6 separate regions of the Homo sapiens genome follow, and all the other regions are reported to be linked to region 6. Evidence: microRNA targets listed by miRTarBase, many of them from high-throughput screens and not tested one by one. Region 6 holds a microRNA gene; each other region holds the end of a gene's coding sequence.

What was found. Region 6 holds the annotated microRNA hsa-miR-99a-5p (AACCCGUAGAUCCGAUCUUGUG, at 2,975-2,996, opposite strand). A microRNA usually pairs through its seed, bases 2 to 8, with sites in the 3' UTR of a target mRNA and lowers its output. Matches are read on the target gene's strand: a 7mer-m8 pairs with bases 2 to 8, a 7mer-A1 pairs with bases 2 to 7 and ends in A, and an 8mer does both.
Region 1: the mRNA of NFU1 is a reported target of hsa-miR-99a-5p. The part of its 3' UTR that is shown has no 7-base or 8-base seed match.
Region 2: the mRNA of MYL2 is a reported target of hsa-miR-99a-5p. The part of its 3' UTR that is shown has no 7-base or 8-base seed match.
Region 3: the mRNA of ZNG1A is a reported target of hsa-miR-99a-5p. The part of its 3' UTR that is shown has no 7-base or 8-base seed match.
Region 4: miRTarBase lists GOLGA3 as a target of hsa-miR-99a-5p. Seed matches in the 3' UTR shown: 7mer-m8 at 172-178.
Region 5: the mRNA of TPPP3 is a reported target of hsa-miR-99a-5p. The part of its 3' UTR that is shown has no 7-base or 8-base seed match.

What each region holds. Positions count from the first base shown.
Region 1 is chr2:69,392,945-69,397,050 of GRCh38, forward strand. It overlaps NFU1 (NFU1 iron-sulfur cluster scaffold), which reads right to left. Exons shown (of 8, transcript NM_001002755.4): 8 at 3,182-3,346. The coding sequence ends at 3,302. Among named protein-coding and RNA genes, the nearest start is that of GFPT1, 7.8 kb to the left of the region's middle.
Region 2 is chr12:110,907,534-110,911,639 of GRCh38, forward strand. It overlaps MYL2 (myosin light chain 2), which reads right to left. Exons shown (of 7, transcript NM_000432.4): 7 at 3,312-3,642. The coding sequence ends at 3,544. CCDC63 (coiled-coil domain containing 63) reads left to right here. Exons shown (of 12, transcript NM_152591.3): 12 at 1-2. Among named protein-coding and RNA genes, the nearest start is that of MYL2, 11 kb to the right of the region's middle.
Region 3 is chr9:117,673-121,778 of GRCh38, reverse strand. ZNG1A (Zn regulated GTPase metalloprotein activator 1A) reads left to right here. Exons shown (of 15, transcript NM_018491.5): 15 at 206-942. The coding sequence ends at 312. FOXD4 (forkhead box D4) reads left to right here and starts at 3,362. Exons shown (of 1, transcript NM_207305.5): 1 at 3,362-4,106. The coding sequence starts at 3,660. RefSeq lists an enhancer at 3,767-4,106.
Region 4 is chr12:132,769,386-132,773,385 of GRCh38, forward strand. It overlaps GOLGA3 (golgin A3), which reads right to left. Exons shown (of 24, transcript NM_001389683.1): 24 at 1-3,909. The coding sequence ends at 3,720. Among named protein-coding and RNA genes, the nearest start is that of ANKLE2, 9.6 kb to the left of the region's middle. RefSeq lists enhancers at 156-325, 2,417-2,616 and a cis regulatory region at 241.
Region 5 is chr16:67,386,933-67,391,037 of GRCh38, reverse strand. TPPP3 (tubulin polymerization promoting protein family member 3) reads left to right here. Exons shown (of 4, transcript NM_015964.4): 2 at 1-114; 3 at 406-559; 4 at 676-1,229. The coding sequence ends at 864. It also overlaps the pseudogene RNU1-123P. Among named protein-coding and RNA genes, the nearest start is that of TPPP3, 4.5 kb to the left of the region's middle.
Region 6 is chr21:16,537,991-16,542,096 of GRCh38, reverse strand. MIR99A (microRNA 99a) reads right to left here and starts at 3,008; the gene lies at 2,928-3,008. All of the region lies in intron 6 of MIR99AHG (mir-99a-let-7c cluster host gene), which reads right to left. It overlaps MIRLET7C (microRNA let-7c), which reads right to left and starts at 2,269; the gene lies at 2,186-2,269.

The sequences.
Region 1 (4,106 bases), not on the chromosome of region 6:
TGTTGTTTTTGTTGTTTGACATGGCGTCTTGCTCTGTCACCGAGGCTGGAGTGCAGTTGCGTGATCTCGGCTCACTGCCACCTCTGCCTCCTGGGTTCCAGCGGTTCTCCTGCCTCTGCCTCCCGAGTATCTGGGATTACAGGCGCCCACCACCATGCCCAGCTAATTTTTGTATTTTTTTAGTAGAGACAGGGTTTTACCATGTTGGCCAGACTGGTCTCGAACTCCTGACCTCAGGTGATCCACCCGCCTCAGCCTCCCAAAGTGCTGGAATTACAGGTGTGAGCCACCGCGGCCGGCCTGTTTTCATTTTAAGGTTGACATTTGGCAGTTTACCACAAATGAAAAATCGGTAAAAGTATTTACCAAGTCCTCCATCATTTACCAGTCTCTCAGAATGCAATCAGCTTCAAGTTACAGAATACCTGATAACAATAGCTAAAACAAGAAAAACATTTATCTCACATCATATAAACTCTGAAAGTGAGTAATTCTTAGTCTGGCCAAAAGGCCAACAATGCCTCAAGGATCCAGACCCTTTTTTTTTTTTTCCTGAGACAGAGTCTTGCTGTCGCCCATGGTGGAGTGCAGTGATGTGATCTCGGCTCACTGCAACCTCCACCTTCCAGGCTCAAGTGATTCTCAAGCCTCAGACTCCCTAGTAGCTGGGACTACTAGGTGGCATGTGCCACTGCACCAGGCTAATTTTTGTGTTTTTAAGTAGAGATGGGGTTTCACCATGGTGGCCACACTGGTCTCAAACCCTTGGCCTCAAGTGATCTACCCGCCTGGGTGTCCCAAAGTGGTGGGATTACAGGTGTGAGCCACCGTGCAAGGCCAAGGATCCAGACCCTTTCTTTGCTCTTTGCTATTCTCAGTGGACCACCTTTTAGTCATGATTACAAGTTGACTGTCATTGCTTTGAACATCACACTCTACAGTGTACCAAGCAGGAAGAAAAGGAATGGATGGAGGAAAAAAAAAAGAGCCTTCTTTCCAGAGATTAACTCACATACACACTCTCTTAACTAGGAAAGACAATCTTTCCAGAATTCTCCAATAGACTTTCTCTTCCAGTTTACTGGCCAGAGCTAGGTCATATGGCTACCCACAGACTAATGACTGGAAAAGAAAAATGGAGTTAAAGTGACTGGTTTAATCATAACTATCCCCTGGGACTGAGGTGAGACCTACTGAGAGTGCCTTCCTTAACAAGAAGTGAGGGTGTATGTTGGGTAGGCAACCAAGAGTTTCTGTGGCACTCTCTATACTACCACTGCCTACTCATGCACCATTTTCACTTTATACTCAAGCCATACTTAGTTTCTTGAGGTTCCCAAATACATTTCACACTTACAATTCTGATTATACTGTTCTTATGCCTAGAATGTTCTTCCCACACCTTTCCTCCTTGTTCTTCATGGCTGTTGCTTTTGTAGAAAATCTTTCCTCTCTTCCTCTTTGGCCTCTCAATTGAATAATTTCCTGTTTTTTTGTTTGTTTGTTTGAGACAGACTCTCGCTCTGTCACCCAGGTTGGAGTGCAATGGCACGATCCCAGCTCACTGCAACCTCCGCCTCCCAGGTTCAAGGGATTTTCGTGCCTCATCCTCCTGAGTAGCTGGGATTACAGGCACATGCCACCTTGCCTGGCTAATTGTTGTATTTTTAGTAGAGACAAGGTTTCACCATTGGCCAGGCTGGTCTCGAATTCCTTACCTCAAGTGATCCACCCACCTCAGCCTCCCAAAGTGTTGGGATTACAGGCATGAGCCACTGCGCCAGGCCAATTTCCTCTCTTCTAATAAACTAATCCTCCATCCAATTCAGCCACTTATTTCATGGCCACATACAAGATCTGCCATTACTGGCATCTCATCCACGATGTCAATTTCCTGTAGCTTCAACTAAAGGGCAGGTTAAGTTGCCTTGCTTATGAAGCAATTCCCAGTGTCTAAATTAAATTCATACATGATATCTCAAGGAATGAATTCTCCAACCCTACTATTTGGTTCAGTGAACCAAAGGATAAAAGTAAAAACTTCAATTCCCAGCACTCACAACTGCTAGAGTTCTTCCTGTTTCCATCACTATCTTAATCTCCTTAATTTGAGGGACTAGAATTCCAGAGATGCAATGCATCACAACTATTTTTCCCATCTTTCCTTTCCCTGTATTTTCTGTTAACTGCAGTCTCTGAATTACTGTAGAAAAATGAGAGAGGAGGCTAAATCACTCTTTTGGCTACCTGAAAAAGCAGTACCCCTAGAGTACAAAAATAATGATGCACACTTCTGGCATGGTACAGATTTTGGATCTCTGAGTCAGAAGCCAGTGGGAGGACCAAAGCAGCTTCTTCTCTTTTCTTCAGCAATTCTGATTGATAAGGTAAAGGCTGGGCATGCTGAGGCAGTTTTTCTAATTTGGCCATCTCCATCTTAACCAATAGAAACTGTGTCCAGATTCTGGGAGTTAGTTTTCAAGTTTTTCACCTTTTTTTTTTTTTTTTTTTTTTTTTTTTTTGAGATGGAGTCTCGCTCCGTCCCCCAGGCTGGAGTGCAGTGGCGTGATCTCAGCTCACTGCCACCTCCGCCTCCCGGGTTCAAGCAGTTCTCCTGCCTCAGCCTCCTAAGTAGCTGGGATTACAGGCGCGTGCCTCCGCGCCCGGCTAATTTTTGTATTTTTAGTGGAGACGGGGTTTCACCATGTTGTTCAGGCTGGTCTCAAACTCCTGACCTCGTGATCTGCCCACCTCGGCCTCCCAAAGTGCTGGGATTATAGGCGTTAGCCACCATACCCGGACATTTTTGATTTCTTTTTTTTGGTCTTAAGCAGTTCTTTGCTACTTAATTGGGGGCTAGTAGCCAGATACCATTTTTAAAACAGACTTGTTTAGCTGTTTCTTAAGCTAAAAACTTCAGTAAAAATAGTTTTAGATATTTCACAAAAAGCTATTTTAGAATATTCTAAAAAGCATTCTGTTTCTTCCTGTATGGAAAAAAGTAAATAAATTAGATGGGGGGAAATGTATTTTAAACTCCTTCACACATATGCAAAGAAAGAGCCATGGGAAATGAGGGACAAAAATAAAAATATCCTTGGATAAAATCCACGTGTACAGAAGATGATTCAAGAGGTTATAAATAACTCATATGAGGTAAAGCAAACATGCAATATTTATATATCATTCTCTGAAGAGCATATTTTATTAATCTTCAAGTTCCTCAGCATATTAATAATAAAAACTTGATATATATTATCAACAAGTCTGACTGTTATGCCCAAAGAAAATCCAGATTATTTTAAGGTGAGTTTGCTTCTTTTTCATCTGATTCATCATCCATAACCTAAAACCAAAAAACAAAGACAATTTAAGAATTAAGAAAATGATTAGATTTTGCTGTTTTCCTGATTTTAATATTACTTCTTTACCTGATACACTCTATAATGAGGCATGACAAGCCAGTAAGAATAAATCTATCAACAGCCCCAAAGAACAAGGTTTGAATCATAACCCGGTATCCTAAAAACATAAAAGCAACCCCATCTCTACTGAAAATACAAAAAATTAGCCAGGCGGGCGCCTGTAGTCCCAGCTACTCGGGAGGCTGAGGCAGGAGGATGGCGTGAACCTGGGAAGCAGAGCTTGCAGTGAGCCGAGATCGCGCCACTGCACTCCAGCGTGGGCAACACAGCGAGACTCTGTCTCAAAAAAAAAATAAAATAAAATAAAAGCAAATTAAATATTTGGAAATTAATTAAAGCATTGATCACTTCTCCTTGTCTCAAAGAGGCTACCCATAGCAGAGTCTCAGCTGGGCAGAAAAGACTATAAATAATTAACTGGGGCCAGGCGCGGTGGCTCACGCCTGTAATCCCAGCACTTTGGGAGGCTGAGGCAGGCAGATCATGAGGGCAGAAGATCAAGACCATCCTGGCTAACACAGTGAAACCCCGTCTCTACTAAAAATACAAAAAATTAGCCGGTCGTGGTGGTGGGCGCCTGTAGTCCCAGGTACCCGGGAGACTAAGGCAGGAGAATGGCATGAACTGGGGAGGTGGAGGTTGCAGTGAGCCTAGTGCCTGGTGATAGAGCACTCCAGCTTG
Region 2 (4,106 bases), not on the chromosome of region 6:
TAGCCTCGTGCCTGTCACACACATTACTAAGGGCTTTGGGTACTGGGGCCACCTCTGGGCTGGGGCCGAGGAGCGAGAAGTAAAAGCGGGAACAGGGAGTGGGAACCATGTGAGTCCATCAAGGCCCCTGGAAACCTCTGAGCTGGAGACCAGCACAGGCCACCCCCAGATATGCAGAGACATGGATGCAGATGCGGTCCACCAGATGTAACAGGGACTAGCCCGGGGGAGGGGCCATGCTGGAGCCAAAGTGTGGATCCTGAGACGCCCCTGGCCACCCGAGGTGTGGCAAACACTCACAAATGGGAAGTGGGAGCTGGGGGCGTGCTGGATCTGCTACTCTGGGTGTGTCTGTGTACATGTGTGTATATCTGTGTTTCTGAGTGTCTGTGTCTCTGTGTGTTTGTATCTATGTGTCTGTATATATGTCTGTGTATATCTCTTTGTGTATCTGAGTGTGTCTCTGTGTCTGTGTGTCCATGTATGTGTGTACCCGTGTGTGTCTCAGTATCTGTGTGCATCTCCATATGTCTCTGTGTCTCTGTTTCTGTGTGTCTCTGCGTGTCTGCACCGGTGTGTGTCTCTGTATATCTCTGTGTCCGTGTGTGTCTCTGCATGTCTGTATCTGCGTGCATCTCCGTATGTCTCTGTGTCTCTGTCTCTGTGTGTCTCTGCATGTCTGCACCTGTGTATGTCTCTGTGTGTCCCTGTCTATGTGTCTCTGTATGTTTCTGTGGCTCTCTCTGTGTGTGTCTCTGTGTGTCCCTATCTGTGTGTCTCTGTGTGTGTCTCTGTATGTTTCTGTGTCTCTCTCTCTGTGTGTCTCTGCATGTCTGTATCTGTGTGCATCTCTGTGTCTCTGTGTGTGTCTCTGTATGTCTCTGTGTGTCCCTGTCTGTGTGTCTCTGCGTGTCTGTATCTGTGTGTGTCTCTGTATCTCTGTGTGCATCTCTGTATGTCCCTGTGTCTCTGTCTCTGTGTGTTCTGTATGTCTCTGCAAGTCTGTACCTGTTCTTGGGATTCTCTTTTTTTTTTTTTTTGAGCCGGAGTTTGGCTCTGTTGCCCAGGCTGGAGTGATCTCAGCTCAGTGAGTGGTGTGATCTCAGCTCACTGTGTATCTGTGTGCATCTCTGTATCTCTCTGTGTGTCTCTGCATGTCTCTGTCTCTGCGTGTGTCTGTCGTGGGTGAGCATGTCACTGTGGAGCTGAGTCCAGGGTGTCTTGCCCAGAACCACGCACTGCCCTGGAGTGTCCTGAGTCCCGCCTTCTTGGTGCCGGACTGCATCTCTGACCACAGGAGCCCGGGTATGAGGCTCTCGGCCTGGACCAACTCTGGAGTGCAGGGAAGCCGTGAGGGGCGAGGGTCACCACAGGGTGTGGGGTGTCCTGGGTCATGGGGATGGGGCCATGACTCCCCTGGGTCCCTGCCCACGCAGCCTGCTTTGAAAGGGGCCCCAGGTCTCTGCAGCCAGGGGACAGTTTCATTCGTCTTGTTAATGGCTCAGCCCTGAGCTCCTCCCACTGTTGTCATTGTCAAGCCTTGAGGACTGGCCCTAACTGTGGCTCCTCTGGCCTCCTGGGTCCTCCTGCCTTCACTGTGACCCCAGCTCCACTCCGTCACCACATTTCAGCTTCTTCCCATCACATCACTGACTTGGGCTGTGTCCTGGGTTCTTGGGTTCTTAGGAGTCTCTCTCTCTCTCTCTCTTTTTTTTTTTTTTTCCGAGACGGAGTTTGGCTCTGTCGCCCAGGCTGGAGTGATCTCAGCTCAGTGAGTGGTGTGATCTCAGCTCACTGCAACCTCCACCTCCCGGGTTCAAGTGATTCTCTTGCCTCAGCCTACTGAGTAGCTGGGATTACAGGCATGTGCCACCATGCCTGGTTAATTTTTGTATTCTTAGTAGAGACGGGGTTTTGCCATTTTGGCCAGGCTGGTCTCGAACTCCTGACCTCAAGCCATCTGCCTGACTCGACCTCCCAAAGTGCTGGGAGGGTTCTTGGGATTCTCTTGAAAACTTGAAGTACCCGAAGTCCACTCCCTGCTTCTTCTTGGGTTTTCCTCTGGGGAATCTTCCCTCCCATCTCCAGGCCATATGGTTCAGGAGGACTCTGATTTCAACCCCAGCACAGGGCTGATCATTTGAGCCAGGCCTGTCCATCAGAGCACTGCCCTTGCCAGTCCATGGTGATTGGCTCAGGGGTGTCAAGTGCCCCAGAGGGATCCCACAAGGCCCTGTTCTGATGTTTGTGTGGAGCTGGAAGAGAGAGGAGTACGCTCTTCTAGGATTGCTGAGGGGCTGGAAAAGGGGCAGGAGCTGCTCTTAATTATTTTGCCACTGCTGAGAGCAGAGCAACGTGACAGAAAACAGAGGCCTCCCCAGCCTCTGAGGGCACTGCCTGGGCTCCTAGGTGCAATTGTGCTTGAAGCCCTTGGACTTCTTAGTTATTTGAACCTATTTCTGTTTTTTTTTTTTTTCCTTTTCTAAGAGACAGAGTCTTACTCTGCCACCCAGGCTGGAGTGCAGTTCACTGCAGCCTCGACCTCCTGGGCTCAAGCGATCTTCCCACTGCAGCCTCCTGGGTAGCTGAGACCACAGGTGCACACCACCATGCCTGGCTATTTATTTTTTATAGAGATTGGATCTCACTATGTTGCCTAGGCTGGTCTCAAACTTTTGGGCTCAAGTGATCCTCCTGCCTCAGCCTCTCAAAGCGCTAGCATCACAGGCGTGAGCCACCACACCTGGCCCTATTTGTTTCTTACACTGGGACTCTTGCAGCCATAACAGACCTGAATGCTTCAACCGTGACTGTGGTCATTCAAAATCAAAGGTCAACTCACATCCAGGCCTGGGCCCCAGACAGAGACAGAAGTCAGTACCACTCCCTCAGTTTGCTAGGGAAGAAGTACAGACAACTTCTACTTTATCTGAAACTAGAAGTCACCCTCTTAGGATTAGCAGGTGTGATTACTGTTGAACGAGCTATGTTCCTACCATGTGTCAGTCCGCTTCCTTCTTGTCACTGTCACTGGCAGGAGAGGCATTCCGATGGCATCCCAAGGGACAGATGTCATGGAAGCAAGGCCCTCTAAATGCTTGAGCTCTTTGGAAGAGAGGGCTTTGGTCATCCAGGTAACATTCCAGGAAAACGTGATCCTTGATAGAAACAGTTCTGAGTGGCTGCAAAGGTCTACCTTAAATAAAGAGTCACCAAGATTCAATAATAATGACTGCAAGGCTGTCACTAGCTCATCTGCCTTTGCCTTCCTTACACAAGGCACTGTTTGTCAGAGAAATGTCGTGACCAAATACACGACCTCCTGTTTATTGGAACATGGCCTCTGGATGGATTTCCAACTGTAGGATGTGCGGCCACGAAGTACCCATAGCCACCCAGGCTGCAAAGAAGATGGAGGTGGATAAATGGGGCAGCCACATGGCTAACAGACAAGGTAGGGACAGAGGCGGTACTCGGGGGAGAGAGATGAGGGCAGGGACCACTCTGCAAAGACGAGCCCAGGGCGCAGCAGCGAGCCCCCTCCTAGTCCTTCTCTTCTCCGTGGGTGATGATGTGCACCAGGTTCTTGTAGTCCAAGTTGCCAGTCACGTCAGGGGGGAAGGCGGCGAACATCTGGTCAACCTGCAATGAGCCAGCAACACGTGCTAAGGACGAGGGGAGGGGAACTGAGACGGAGGGTGGGGGGCTGTGGGCGGGGCCTGAGTGGACGGATAGCTGGGGGGTGGGGGATGGGAACATGGGCCACTCAGAGGGTCCTCCGGGGAAGGACTTCCCCAGCTGCTGCAGGGCCCCCTCGCCCAAGGTCATGCCCTTTCTGGGGCAGCCCACAGCCAGCGGATGGGATTGGTGTGGGGGTATAAAGGCACGGCCATCTCGCCCAACTTGGTACCTCTCAGGAGAGCTGTAGAATAAGCTCCCTCCCTGGGTAGTCAGCAGTGCCGATCTTTGGGCCTAAATCTTGGCTCAACTTCTTCCTTCATGCACTTTTCCTTCCTTGCCCTTCCCTGTTCTTCCTTTCTTGCCCTTCCCTGTTCTTCCTTCCCTGACCCCAAGGGCCCTCCCAAGTAAACATCATGCAGAGATGT
Region 3 (4,106 bases), not on the chromosome of region 6:
CTTCAGTTTTAGAAAAGTGGTTAATCCAAGGACCAATGTGACTTTGATGTACTGACCTGGAAAGTTAAAGATGGAATCACTCAATTACTATTCTTTTTGTAAATTTCTAAACACCATAAAGCATTTAATGAACTGGAATTGATAGGTGAACTGTGTCATTTTAATAAGCATAATGTAATCACGTCATATTTTGTTTTGTTTGCAGGCAGAAATTTAGATAAGGATATCCTTAAACAGCTGTTTATAGCTACTGTGACAGAAACAGAAAAGCAGTGGACAACACGTTTCCAAGAAGATCAAGTTTGTACATAACACTAGAGGCATTTCTTATCAAAAGGATTGGATAATAAAAATAAGTTTCTACTGGGTATATTTCAAGCATTTATTTATTACTTTAGTTACGAATTCCAATATACTTTAAAATGGTATTTGTTTTACAGCATACATAAAATGTAGCAAATCAGTACTGTAAAACATTTAACATTCATACAGTTATATATAATATCCTTTTTTTTAAAGAATGGTATTTCACAAAAATATCTTTTGAAATTGGCTTTGGAGTTTACATATACTGAACATGAAAGTTTATAATAATGATGATACAACTTTCAACATTGTCATTTTTTCTTAGAACTTCAGCTGATTGCAGAGATATAATGATTACATTGTTATTAAATTTTTTTAACACAAGTAAGTGTCACCATTTTATGACATGAAATAAAAGGTTATGACTGTTATTGATGTTGATGTTGACGACCTGATCACCTGGCTGAAGGAGTGTTTGTCAGGTTTCTCCATTGTAAAGTTACTCTTTTCCCCCATTTCATACTGTGCTCTTTGGAAGGAAATCACTATGCACAGCCCACACTAAAGGAATGGGGAGTTGTAGTGTACTTTCTTGGGAGTGGTCTACATGATTAATTGAAATTCTTCTGCAAAGGACAGTTGTCCCTTTCGCTTTATTAGTTCGATCATTTATGTTTATCAGTGTGGACACATGAATATTTTATACTTTGGGTTACAATTTAATACTGCTTTATTTTGTTGCTCAAATTATCCCAGCTTTGACCATTGGGAACTCTTTCCGTTATCTCCTGTTCCCACCTTTGACATACCCCCATCAATGTGGGTTTTGTGTTTTGTTTTTGAGTGCCTCCTTACTTTTCTCCTGTATTTTTAAATAACCCCAATCCCTATTGAAGCTGGCGCTAGGAAAACTAACAATACTCCCTTTCCCAGGTCATCCGATTCCTATGCTGATGGAGGAAATTTGCCTCACATGCTGGGGGCGCTGGGATTTTGTGGTTGAATAAGACACCTGGCCTGGCCCTCCTGGAGCTTAGTTTAGTAGGTCACACAAGCAGTCATTGGTAAATTTGGGATTCAAACAAATCTGTTAGGCTCAAACCTGTCTGTTATTTGTCCTCCAAGCTTCATATAAACTGAGGAGCCTTAAAGGGTAAAAACTTCAGGAGCAGCAAAGTTTCAAAAAAAGATCAGCAAGAAAGCCCTTTTCCAGATTTTATCCTGAAGGCACTAGCTACTTTAAGCTATTTTTTATTATATTTTGCCCTTGCAGTTGGCGTTTGATTTCTCACTGAACATTCATTGTCATAATTATAGACACTATGTGACTATCAAGGGCATAATATTCTTTCATGCTGCATTTTTATTAGATGGCACCTCAAAGTTTTCCCAAGTAGGTGGGTTTTAAATTATGAATATATACCGTGGCATAGTATCTTACTTAGTATTTTAATAAGATCCTTATTTATATAACAAATATTTTTTTTATTCCTCTGTAGTGCTACTTTAGTCTCTGAGCTAATTTTCATGAAGCCAATCTAAAAATCGTGTTACTTCTAAGGATGTGGAGCGAGTGAGATGAACAGTTGTGCTGTCATATTGCCCCTCCCCAGTGCAGACAGTGAATGAGGACCCACTGATTTAAAGGCAACACTGCAGCCCCTTCTTGCCTCATTGAAGTCCCAAGTTTTATTACAGTAAAAGCACTTAATGTTGACATTTCTGAAAGAATGAAGAGGCCGGGCGTGGTGGCTCACGCCGGTAATCCCAGCACTTTGGGAGGCTGAGGCGGGCGGATCATGAGGTCAGGACATCGAGACCATCCTGGCTAACACGGTGAAACCCCGTCTCTACTAAAAATACAAAAAATTAGCCGGGTGCGGTGGCGGGCGCCTGTGGTCCCAGCTACTTGGGAGGCTGAGGCAGGAGAATGGCGTGAACCCGGGAGGCGGAGCTTGCAGGGAGCCGAGATCCCGCCACTGCACTCCAGCCTGGGCGACAGAGCGAGACTCCGCCTCAAAAAAAAAAAAAAAAAAAGGAAAAAAAGAATGAAGAGCCAGAGCCAGGCATAGTGGCACGCCTGTAGTCCCACCTACTCAGGAGGCTGAGGCGGGAGGATCACTTGAGCCCAGGAATTCAAAGCCAGCCTGCGCAACATAGACCCTGTCTCTAAAAATGAATTGGTTATAAAGGATGAAGAAAGGAAGGAGGAAAGGGAGAGAGAGAAGCCCTTATAGAGTGGGTGCATTTCTTGTATGTGGGGCCACTTTGTAAGAACAGGATTTTTCAAACTGGGCCCATACTGGTATGTGTGAAATCAATTTAGTTGGTTATGGCCATTTTTTTTTAAAAGGAAATATCAGTGATCACTATAGTGTAAGTATATTGTTTCGTGAAAGCCATCTTAGTTATGTATTATGTCTGTATGTGTAAGATTGTGATATAAAATGTATTTCTGTGGTTAAATATTCAAAGAAATTGGAGAACCATTGCTACAAGGGGACAGAGGACTCCGTGTGAGCTCTCCTGCCTTCCCTGAATAAACTTACACAATTTAGTGCTGGGACATTTGAACCTTTTCTGAAAATTTGAGTCAGGGAGAGCATCTTGGGGAGGTGGGAAGGAAGGTAGAAGGAGCAAAGCAACACCCCCCTGAAGCCTGGGAATATTGTCAGAACCTTAAATATAATTCAGCTCACCATTCTGGGTAAGGACAGACTCTACCAATGAAAATGGGTGATTACCAGCTGTGAAACACAAAAACATACTTTCACGGTTACACATTCCTTTACAAACAACCGTGTACATTTCAGCCTCCTACCCCACCATTTCTTTTCTCCAGGCGGGAAGGCTGCATGTCGAGGTGGTCGTAGAATGTTGAGTATCCTACTTTCCTACCTCGCTTTTATTTGCGCGGGTTTAAATGCGCCTTAACAGAACCCGTGCAAAGGCTTGCCTACTGTCTGGCTGCACCGGATGAGTAGAGCATCTTCCTTGGTGGCAGGTGGGTGCGAGGAGGAGGGCGCTGGGCTTTTCTCCGGACGGTGTTTGCCCAGAAGACCATCATCCCTGGACTACGTTAGGAGGAAGTGGCACCGCTCCGAGGTAGGGGAAGAAGGGTTATAAAGGGAGGCGTCCACCACACATGGTCTTGAAGAAGCTTTTATAAAAGGCGAAGGCATCTTTGCCGGACGTTGTTGCAAAGGCGTAGAAACAAGCAGAGGAAAACATCCCAAAGGGTAACCACTAGCGTTCCTGCTTCTTGCAACATTCATCCCGGGCTTCCAGCTCAGCCCGCCGGGGCCAGGTGATCCGGCCGCCACATCCCCTGCGACTGAAGCACCTGCTCCGCCATGAACTTGCCAAGAGCTGAGCGCCTTCGCTCCACACCGCAGCGCAGCCTCCGGGACTCCGATGGGGAAGACGGTAAAATCGATGTCCTGGGAGAGGAGGAAGATGAAGACGAGGAGGAGGCGGCGAGCCAGCAGTTCCTAGAGCAGTCGCTCCAGCCGGGGCTGCAGGTGGCCCGGTGGGGCGGGGTTGCGCTTCCCCGAGAGCACATCGAGGGCGGCGGCGGCCCGAGCGACCCCTCAGAGTTTGGCACCGAGTTCAGGGCACCGCCAAGGTCTGCGGCGGCCTCTGAAGATGCCCGGCAGCCGGCAAAGCCCCCCTCCTCGTACATCGCGCTCATCACCATGGCCATCCTGCAAAGCCCGCACAAGCGCCTCACGCTCAGCGGCATCTGCGCCTTCATTAGTGACCGCTTCCCCTACTACCGCCGCAAGTTCCCCGCCTGGCAG
Region 4 (4,000 bases), not on the chromosome of region 6:
CCCTGCACCAAGGAGAGTTGAGGGCCAGCTCCTTAGCGCAGCACAGCACGGACTGTGTTCTGGTGGGCAGGGCCCCTGCTGGACCCACCCGAGGAGAGTCCATTTCACATCCTATCAGAAACACTGCCTGATCCATATTGCAGAGAGTGGGAACGGGTGTGAGTCCGTAAGACCCGTAGCATCAATCTCACATATACCACGGAAAAACACATGAAAACCAAGTTACGTTGTTTTTGGAACATCAGAAAAACAAGTAGTGACATCGTGAAGTGCCCTAGCCTGTTGTGACACACGGTGTGGGGATGAACACGCCGCCCTAGCCCGTGACACACGGCGTGGGGATGAACACGCCACATAATGCACTGGTGACCCTGTTTTGTAAGCAGTACTCCCAACTTCACTGCCTTTTCCGTGAGGATATTCCATCATTCCCACTTCTGCCCACAAGAACAAAATAATTCAAACTTTATGCACTGAAGTAACTCTGGAAGGTAGAAGTGCCGGGAGAGTCCCTTGGAGATAAAAAAACCTCAACAATAAAAAAAAGCAATTTAAAAATCCAACTGCAGCCGGGGGCGGTGGTTCACGCCTATAATTCCAGCACTTTGGGAGGCTGAGGCTCAGGATCACCTGAGGTCAAGAGTTCAAGACCAGCCTGGCCAACATGGTGGAACTCCACCCCTCTAAAAATACAAAAATTAGGCTGGTGTGGTGGCGGGCACCTGTAATCCCAGCTACTGGGGAGAATGAGGCAGGAGAATCGCTTGAACCCAGATGGCGGAGCTTGCAGTGAGCAGAGATCACGCCACTGCACTCCAGCCTGGGCGACAGAGCGAGACTCTGTCTCAAAAAAAAAAAAAAAAAATTCCAACTTCCTCTTTTAGGCGTCTTCTTAAGGAAGGAAGTGTCCGCGTGAACACGAGAGGCCTCAGATCCAGAAGCACAAGCCGTGCATGAAAACACCAAAAGACTCACTGCAGGGAGCAAAGGCAGCCAGGCCCTGCCAAACCAGAGGGGGCCCTGGCACCGGCGACCACAGAGCGCTGGGGGAGGCATCGCACCCAAGGGCACACACGCAGGAAAACCGGGGTGAGAACATAGAGCTACTTTTCCTTCGGTATTTTCAGAATTAGTCTGTCCTAAGAGAAAAAAAAATACATGGTGAACATCACTCACTTGAGGACTTCCCATAAGCAAGGAGAAGTCGCTCCCCACTGAATGTGTGATTTCTCGATTTTAGATTTTTTAAAATCATTTATTTATTTTTGAGACGGAGTCTCGCTCTGTTGCCCAGGCTGGAGGGCAGTGGCGCGATCTCGGCTCACTGCAAGCTCCGCCTCCTGGGTTCAAGTGATTCTCCTGCCTCAGCCTCCCAAGTAGCTGGGATTATAGGTGCGCACTACGACACCCGGCTAATTTTTGTATGTTTAGTAAAGACGGGGTTTTGCCATGTTGGCCAGGATGGTCTGGACCTCTTGACCTCAGGTGATCCACCCGCCTCGGCCTCCCAAAGTGCTGGGATTACAGGCATGAGCCACCGCGCCCGGCCCGATTTCTTGATTTTAAAATTAAAACAAAGGGGTAGTACAGCCAAAATAAATAAGAACGTAAATTGCCGTATTTTTTTTTCTAATGGTACAAGAACAATTTAGTAAATAACATCTTCAACTTAAGATAAAAAGTAGGATATATTTATAATGAAATTTTCAAGTATTATTTCAAAATTAACCCTGTACAAATGATATATTTTGGAAATTCCAATATTTGCTAGAGAATATTTTTTAAATACCAAACATCTTTGTGGTTAATGCTACCTTAACCTTACCAATTAACCTTCTAAAAGTATATTACAACAGAACACAAATAGCTTAAAACACACCATACTGTTTTCTCCACAAAACAGACACCAGACACCGACATGAGCACATCTGGCCTGGCCAGTGACTCAGAACCTCATTTCAGACCAGTACATCTGCAGAGGAGGCCACGCGGACCCATTCTCTCTCTCCTAACTCATATAATAAATATTATTTTAGATTTTCTTAGCAAACTAGGGGACAACTTACAGACCCCACCTCTCCCAGTCAGCCAGTGTCTGCAGGGTTTCAGGATTTGGGGTAGGAAACAGAAGATCTCACACATGTCGTGCTGATTTTAAATAAGGCATCTGTCTCTGAGACACCTGGGAGAGCACAGCCACCTTCCTCACGGTGCCTGCCTGTCTCTTCCGGAAGTCGCCTCTGCTTGCCACATGATGCTGGTGTAACCACAAAAGATCCAGGACTTCTCGATGACTGCAGAAGTACAGGTGCTCCTACACACGAGTACAGGCGCTCCCACAGACAATGGTAAAGATTTTCACTTGGGGAACAGGAGTGTGAGGTTTGTTACCGCCTGCGACCTACACCTGGCTGACTCCAGGGGAAACCGCGGGAGTCGCTGCAGGGAGCCCCTGGTCTGCTCTCCTCCTCCTCCTCCACCGGCCTCTCCCTGTGCCCCCCCAAAGGTCAGATCAGATATGGGGCCTCAGTGTCCTTGTGCCTCCTGATGGCCGTCAGGCCTGACCAAGGGTCCAAGCTGCCCCTTCCCAGTGGCCAGCCACGGTGGAATCACACAGGGCCAGTGGCCTGAGAGGAAGAGACCAGCAGGAAGGAAAGATCCTCAGCAACAAAGTAAAACCAGAACAACAGAGGACCTTTCTGTGTAAGAATATTTGGCTTTAGAAGGTAAATAAAATAATTATATTTCTTAGAATTTTCTGACTATCCCTAAATCCTGCAGGTAAATTATTCCCAACAAATTTTCAAAAGGCAATCAATAATAAGTAGGTTCTTCTTCAATAACATGAGCATATGCTTCTTAAAGACTGGGTGACAGGCCGGGCGCAGGGGCTCACGCCTGTAATCCCAGCACTTTGGGAGGCTGAGATGGGCAGATCACTTGAGGTCAGGAGATCGAGACCATCCTGGCCAACATGGTGAAACCCCATTGCTACTAAAAATACAAACATTAGCCTGGCATAGTGGCGCACGCCTGTAATCCCAGCTACTCGAGAGGCTGAGGCAGGAGAATCGCATGAACCTGGGAGGCGGAGCTTGCAGTGAGCGGAGAGTGTGCCACTGCACTCCAGCCTGGGCAACAAAGCGAGACTCTGTCTCAAAAAAAAAAAAAAAAAAAAAACAAAGATTGGATTATGATATTCAGTATCTATGTACACATCCTATGGTGGGATGGCTATCCAAAAAAACAAGTAAAAAGCCAAAGGTACAGATAAAATTTCATTTCTGCGGAAAAGTAAAGCTCTTACTGAATGGAACAGGGAAGTGAGAAACTGCAGCCGGCCTGGCCAGGCGCGGTGCCGCAGACCCTGTCACACAGCTGCTCCCAGTTACGCAGCCTCTCCCTGTCACCCGCAGAGAGCAGCATCGGTGGCCGCTCAGAAGCCACGACCTACAAGTAACCCTTCAGACACGTTCAAAGCTCCTCGCCGAGAGCCTATCAGGCTTTTAAGAGTTGGTCATTCCATGTGAAAAGCTAATTGTGATCTTCGAATGTTTTTCTAGTCCTTGGCTCTCATTCTGCTATATATTTTACTTCTTGTTAAAGGCAAAACAAAACTTAAATTTCATGTCTTAGAAAAACATCGACCACACAATCAAATAAATAACATTGATAAGAGCCTTCTGGGGCAGCGGCGCACGGAGGCGAGTCCACAGCAGTCACTCTCCCGGCCCTTCTTTGGAAGCCCTGCTCTGACTGTGTCTCTGTGGGTCGCCGCGTGGGCCGGCGTGACCCCCCGGGGGCACAGGGCTGGCAGTGGCTGGCTCCAGCGGCGTCCACGAGGACAGAGACTCGTGCACCGTCAGGGCGTGCTCCTCCATCTGGCGCTGCAGGCTGTCCATCTCCTGCCTGGGACAGAAGAAGGAGGAAGAAGGCCCAGATCACACAAGTGCCAGGCAGAACGCGCCACCTGTGGACAGCGTCACTCGCTAGCACCTGA
Region 5 (4,105 bases), not on the chromosome of region 6:
CAGTGGGCAAGAGATGAATGGCAAGAACTGGGCCAAGCTGTGCAAGGACTGCAAGGTGGCTGACGGAAAGTCCGTGACAGGGACCGATGTGGACATCGTCTTCTCCAAAGTCAAGTGAGCCCTAAGCAGCCCCTGCTTCTCATGTTCCCAGGAGGTGGGGAACTGGGGGGCTGGAACCAGGGAGGACATCAAGAAGGGGTCAGGGAAACACCATGATCACGAAGGTCGTTCTTCCAGGGCAAACCTTATATCTATTGCCCTCCAGAGTTGCTGACCCCTGCGACTTCCCCAAACGTGGGAAAGAAACGCAATTGCATAATTTGTGGTGGCAGCAAATGTGTTTGAGCTTTCCCCTGGGGGAGAAAAAAGAAAGGGGAACCCTCATGGTGCCCACATGCCTGTCAGGGGGAAGTCTGCTCGGGTCATCAACTATGAGGAGTTCAAGAAGGCCCTGGAAGAGCTGGCGACCAAGAGATTCAAGGGGAAGAGCAAGGAGGAGGCCTTCGATGCCATCTGCCAGCTGGTGGCAGGCAAAGAGCCAGCCAATGTGGGCGTCACTGTAAGTGCCCTGCTGGTCTCGGGTGGCCACGGAATGGGGTGTGGGGAATCGTGGCTGTGGGTGGGAAGGGCTGGGCTCCCTCATCAGGTGCCCCTGGGGAAACTCTGTCCAAACAGAAAGCAAAAACAGGGGGTGCTGTAGACCGGCTGACGGACACCAGCAGATACACGGGCTCCCACAAGGAGCGCTTCGATGAGAGCGGCAAGGGCAAGGGCATTGCGGGACGGCAGGACATCCTGGACGACAGTGGCTACGTGAGCGCCTACAAGAATGCAGGCACCTACGATGCCAAGGTGAAGAAGTGAGGCTTGGGAAGACCGCCCTGCCAAGTGCGGCTGCCCCTGCCAGAGGCTCAGGCCTGGGTCTAAGGGGCACGTGGAGCAAGAGATCCTGGTCCCCTCCCTGCTGGACCTGCCACCCAGAGCTTCCTGCCTAGTCCCACTGGGCTGGCCCACCAGGCCTCTGACCCAGGCTGCTCTGCGGCCCCTTCCTCCTCCTCTTCCTGCTCCAACTTCTGTCCACCTGGGGACAGTCTGTGCCTGTAGCCTCATGACCCCAACCCAGCCCCAGGCATGGCTAACCCCTGACTGCTTGCCTCATATTTAAGCTGCTGCTCTGGCCAAGTGCCTAATTTTAACCCAGACCTCAATAAAGACACCTTTTGTACCAATATGGCCTGGTTGACGATGATGGGGGAATGACATTCACACTCCAGTGACCCCCTCAGTGTCATCACCCCGCTGCATGCCACACACTGCTAATCACTCCCCTTCCCCTGGCAGCCTTGCCCAGAAAAAGGCACTCATGAGTCCCCTTCTGTTAGCACAGAGCCATTCTGTCTGAGGAGACTCCTGGGGAAGTCCAAAGCCTTTTAGCTGGGCCTGACGGGAGTCCTGACATCAAAGCTTGCCTTCCTGTGACCAGTGCCTTGGGTTTGGAGAGTTGGCCCCCTCTCCACTTTCACAGCAGTAGGAGGGATGAAACAGCCGACTCAGCCTGGGCCAAGCATTGGCAGAGGCCCCAGAGCCAGGCATCAGCTTTCAGTCTGCGAACAGGGGCTACCGAGGCAAGTCATTTTGGGTTCTGGCTCAGAATACAGAAAACGCAGGGCCAGGCAGAACCTTAGAGAGTAGCTCATCCAGGCCGGGCGCGGTGGCTCACGCCTGTAATCCCAGCACTTTGGGAGGCTGAGGCGGGTGGATCATGAGGTCAGGAGTTCAAGACCAGCCTGACCAACATAGTGATACCCCGTCTCGATTAAAAATACAAAAATTGGCTGGGCATGGTGTTGCGTGCCTGTAGTCCCTCCCAGCTACTCAGGAGACTGAGGCAGGAGAATCGCTTGAATCCAGGAGTTGGAGGTTGCTGTGAGCCGAGATCACGCCACTGCACTCCAGTGTGGGCAACAGACACTTTGTCTCAAAAAAAAAAAAAAAAAAAAAAAAAAAAAAAGAGAGTAGCTCATCTGACTCCGTAATTTTATAGCTGAGGAAACATCCAGAGAGGTGGAGGGGCTTCTGCAGACTAGAGGCCAGACCATGCCTCTTGCCTCCCAGGCCAGGCTCTTTCTAGCAAGCCCCAGCATTGACTTCCAAAACTGGGACTGGCTGACTGGTGATAGGGCTTGGCACCCAACACTAGCCTGTGGTGGGAGCAGGGCATCCCTCAGTAAAGGGGCCTCCTCTTTGATGTCCTCCCATCTGTTCCACATCCCTAGTGGGGGAAGGGAGCCTCTCTGGTCCTGAGGATGCCTGGGCGTTTCCAGATCATCTCACTGAGGCTCTGGGTGTTTTGACAGAGCTATTCCCAAGCCAAGGCTTTCGGGCTACCTCTCCTTCCTTCCTTGCTGTGAAAATGGGGCTGGATGGGACTTTAGGGCCTACCCAGGAGAGGGTGGCTCCCAAAGGGGCTAGAAAAGGTATAAAAGGGCCAGTTCCCAAATGCCTGCTTTCCTGACCCAGATCACAAGACAAAGCAGCACCATTGTTTATCCTCTCATCCCACAGTCTATTGGGGGATGCTCCTGCCCAGGTGGCCCCACATCCCTTAAGCCCAGCTTTCCTTGGGGACAGGGGTGTAGCGGAATAGTATGGCTTGAGACAGGGATGTCAGGCGGGAATCGGCAGGCAGCAGGTGGGCACCTGGCCACAGCAGAGCCTTGCCTCACAGCGCGGCTCCTCCTGACCCAGCTGACCGCGTCTCCTTGAGTGGCCCAGGGAAGAGCTTCAGGGACCTTCAGGCAGATCCTCCCACCAGCAAATGTTAAGAGGTAGAATGCAAGGCGTTTAATGAAAAAAAAAAAATGCAGAGGAACAATTCCTCTAGCCCTGGAAAATTCGTTTGAATTGCAAGCTTAAAATGAACATAATAGGAGTGAAACCCAAATCCTCTGGCTTTCACCAGAACAGCCTCACAGGGAAACAAATTTAACTGTGTTCCAAATTGGGCCAGGCTCCCACTATTCCACTGCAGGTGACAGTACCATCCAATGGTAGAGGGCCCAGCGGCTTCTCCATTCCTGTGACTGGCAGTATGGCTTGGAAGAACACAGAGAGAATGGCTGAGCCCCAAAACCCCACGTCATAGGAGTAAAGCCGCCTCTTCTCGAAATGCCGTTATGAAGCCCGAGGGAATTTAAGGCCCACTCAGGGCTGGGAGGACCCTAAGACCAGACGGGTCTAGCAGAATCTGGCACATGACAGCCATTGCCCAGCAATGCCACTGCCCCTCCCCTAACAGCCTCCTTGTGGTTGAAAGCTTTGGATACCCTTGCTAGCAAAATCAGGTTAGACAAAGGAGAGGTTAGGATCAGAGGGACAGAGCCTTTAAAACCTGCTCTGTATGGCTGGGAGAACTCCCAACCTAAGAGTGGCTCTGCCCCTCCCTCTGGACATAGAACCTCCCTGAGGACCAGTCTCCATCCCAGACCTGTCCTGCTTTCTGGTGGTAGTGCCAGGCCTAGGGTGTGGGATTCTGCTCCACGTGTTTTCTGCTTGTTTAAAGGGTCCTCCGCTTTCCATGTTGAGTCCAGTTTGCCCTGAGCTCTTTGGCTCTCTCCTTAACATCGCAACCCCTACCCGTGCCCTGTAGAACAAGTGCCATACAGGGAAAAATCAGAAACAGATGACTTCCCCAGGAGTGGCCAGCAAACCTAGCAGGTGCCTGGCCTGGGGCAGGGTCGGTCACTTTCAATGACAATGGCAAATGGGGTGGAGGGTGGCACACACTGGGCCAGGCTCTTTGTTCCCCTTAGGAGGTGTCCTGAGTGGATTCTGGGGCTAGCACCATCAGGTGTTCATGGAGGAGGCAGGAAGGGCTGGGTTGGAGGAAAGCAGTGCATTATTCCTCCCTGCCCCCTGGTGTGTCCATTAGGTTGGCCTGTGCACTGGGCTGAGACCCTGAAATATAACAACTCAGGGATGCAAGGCCACTGGCTGATGCTCCCCTACCTGGGAGACAAAGACAGGCCCAGGAAAGAGGCAGCGGGGGTGCAGGGAGGCTGCTCTTACTGACATTTCCACAGAGCACAAGCTCGCTCTAGCTCCC
Region 6 (4,106 bases):
GCATGAGCCACCACACCTGGTCAGATTTTTTCTTATGATTTCTACATAACTAACATAATGAATCATAGAGACATCTTCACCATTCTTCAATTATTCTTCTATTATACTCATTCACTTTAGGTGATAGTATATAAAAGAGGCTGTAATTCTAACAATTCATTATAGTACTTTTGTAAGATTATCCTTAAACTGCACATCTTACTTGACCTCTGTGAGGCACTTAACTCCATTACACTGTAAGGAAATAGACATTTATTGGCAATCATATTCTATTTGGCCCATCAATAGATTTGGCTTCTAAATAAATACACCTAGTATTGGGAGATACATACATAGAAACACATAGGAAAGGGATCCTAGGCTCTCAAGGAAAAAACTATTTATAAAGATACAATTGTTTACCCATTTAGTTGTCCCTTTCTTTCATCCGTGGGTTGAACTGCCATCATTAGACACAATGGTGTTCCTATTTGCTATGAGTCACTTTCCTTTTCATCTCTTCATGTCTTTTTGTTTGTTTGTTTTAGGTCTATGTCTACTGCCTCTTATTCATTGCTTCTTGATTAGTCCTTGCAAATATTTTTCTTTCACAGAGAGAAAGAGTCTTTACTACTGTAGACCAATCAAATTATTTTGCTTGAAGTGACTGGTATTCACTTTCTAAGGCTCACATGTTCTACGTGTTGGGGGTAGCCATTCCTTCTTCACTACATTGTTAGCAAGTTCTAGGTATTAAGATATTTTGGATGCCTGAGCATTCTAGAAAGGTCAGCACCACATAGCCAGTATCTTGAGGTCCTTAATATATATTTGCATCTAAACGTCTCTTTAATGAATTCCATGTTTCATATTTGGAGTCTTAAATTAAAGTTCTAACATCAACAACTACTTAATCCTGTGTCTGAAAGATGATCTATGTAAGATAGCCTCACTACACAAATTACACCACTAACAGCTGCTAAAGTTGACAGCAAACTAAGGTTCCAAAGAGTCCCATTTGCTTTGTAACACAAAGAATATTATAAAGTGCCTTTCCTTTAAACAAAAATGTGTTCACATTCTCAAATTATACTTTATATACATATTTATTATTAATTTATTGACATGTTTCTGGTTTAGTTGCTTCTGGTTTATTCAACAGATATAGCTGTACAAAAATAAAGGGCAGGAGACGAGGGAAATACACAAAAGACACAAATCTAATTTTTAAAAATCATATTGTTAAATGAGACTTAAAATAGAATATTTAGTTGAAATTGATGCTAAAAGAAAAACGATTCATCTGGAAAGAAAGGTATTTAAATTCAACAGAAATATGAATTATCTAAGTGTAGGATCATAAACTGTCATGAACTAATTAGTAAAAATGAATTTACTCTATTATTTTTATTCTAGATAAAAAGTACTTCTAAATTTTAACTTATCTGTTTAGAATGAATGAACACATTCAACACAGTCAAAAATCGACACATGTATTACTGATGCGGAGCAGTCCAGGAATTAAATTTAAACAGTTTTAGGAGCAATAAATAAAACTCAGATGTTTGACCACTGCCATAACTCATTCAAATATTCAATAGAAACTCATCACAGAGTGAGGTCTTACACTCCATTCACTAATCCAATAAATAGTTAGTGCTCATTATGAGTAAGGCATTGGAGGGGATACAGTGAAAAATAAAACATGGACTTTGCCCTCAAGGGGCTTACAGTCTAGTGCGGAAAAAATCAGCAAGCACATAAATAGCCATAACATAAGGTAGAAAGTGATGTGTCATAAGGAAAACGCAAATAATGTGCTATGGGAGCTATTAACTCTAGCAGACATTTTTTATTATAGTGTCTAAGCAGCCAATATAAATAGACCAATGATCCATTTGAAAATTAAGGTCTGAATTTTGTTAATCTATAGATGATAAAAAGCTTTAATATTAATGCAATTTAAGTCACTACCTACAATTTTCTTAAAATGTTTGAACATGGAGTGACAACCCATTAGAAATACCATTTTGACATTGTTCATAAGCAGATACAAATGGAATAATCTAATAGGGCTGAAATGATCATTTTAATGTAATAAAGGCCCAAATCAATGATCCAAGATACTCATGACACATTACCTTCTTGCACACAAATTGGCTCAATCAGGTTAAAGTGATGAAGAATTCCTCGACGGCTCAAGTGTGCTCCAAGGAAAGCTAGAAGGTTGTACAGTTAACTCCCAGGGTGTAACTCTAAACCATACAACCTACTACCTCAACCCGGATGCACACAGCTTCCAATGTTGCTTCAAACTCCTTATCATATCTTCAGTCAGCTCCTCCAAATATGGCAGCCATACACCTAAGGGCTTGGCAAGGATATAGATATAATATTCTAACATTTTACCAGTAAACTTTGCTGCTAACTGTTTCTCATAGGACTAACCTAAACACTTGGGTTTCCAGCATAGGTCACGTAAAATGTCTTCTGACCATCTAACCTGCCATAGTTCTAGTCGCAATTAATAGTAAAAGTCAATTGCATTCAGCCTCATTTTTTCAGGAGAAATAGGCTCAATAAAAACATATAAATCCAATGGTAGTCTTTAATTTTCTTACTGAAGTTGAAGAGGTACACTAAGCACTACAGTATGCACTGAAGTTTCTGAACAGAATCTATTCAGATCCTGGTCCAAACCCTGCTATAAAGGTTCAACTTTCTTATGCAATTTACTGTACATGGAATCGAACTTGAATGGGTGTGATATAAACGCTTCCAAGTTGTTGAGAATTGAAGCCTGCCTTGTAAGACAGACAATGATTAAAATAAACATTAAAAACAAAGGAAAATATAATGACTTCAAAAGTATATAATCAACTGGAGTTTAACAGGATTTTACTGAACTATTGTTGAACGGCACTGTGTATAGCATTTTGTCAGATTACCACACTGACACAGACCCATAGAAGCGAGCTTGTGCGGTCCACTTCACCACAAGATCGGATCTACGGGTTTATGCCAATGGGCAACATCTTGCATGGGCCCCCTATTAATATAGAATTTGTTGTAAATATCTGATGCAATTAAGAGTCAAAAATAATATTGATCCTTTAGTATAAATGTTTTAAATGCTGAGTTCTAAGGATGCATATTCTCCATTAAAGGCCTTCATAAATATTCAAAACTAAATACAAATTTATATGCATGAGAATTTAAAAAGTAGTTTATTGAAAAATTTTTCACGAACTGCTTTTGTTTCAATAGTAAATATTTTGGAATTAAACTATTCTAATTGAGTTTTAAAAGAAAAAAGAATCCATACATGCATGTATGAATTATATAATTGTGAGGCATGAATGTAGTATTACGAGCCTATAATTAAAACCAAATTAACTATTAAGTTAATTGTGTATGAGTTAGACCGTGCTTATTTTAATTTTTATAAAACTAGTTTAGTTACTGGTTTCAAGGAATTGGTAACATTATAACTTTCTCATAAAACAGTAAGATCTTGTTCACTAGCTAGAGAATACAGGAAGTTATTATCAGCCTTAAATATATACATCTGTGTCTATAGTCGGAATGGTGCTAAAATTTACAATATTTGGATGAGTTAATATAAAACTAAACTAAATGGCACGATAATGGCATGATTACTAATACTCCACACTAACATTTATACTCCAGATGTATTACATGACATAGGATATCTTCTTTCCTAAATAAAATATATTTAAACTTATTGTTCAAAAAAGATACACTTAAAATGCATGGCTACATACAACTCTCATCTGGTCAACAGGTTGGGCAAAAATAAAATATTACTAAAAAATGTTTTAAACCACCAGACAACAAGCAAACACACAAACGAGTAAACATAAAGCCAGCCACATACACGTTTTTTTAAGATTGTAAACTCAACTGCAACAAAATGATAAGTTGTACAATCATTAATCATTTCACATCTATAATCACTTAGCATTTCCTAATTATATCTTTATTGTGTAAAATAATACTACATACTAATTGCTTAGTGATTTTGCATATTTTGAAATAAATACGTTTTATAGCCTTTATATAGATCATGTGTTCTACATAATTTTAAACCATTATTTATTCTTAAA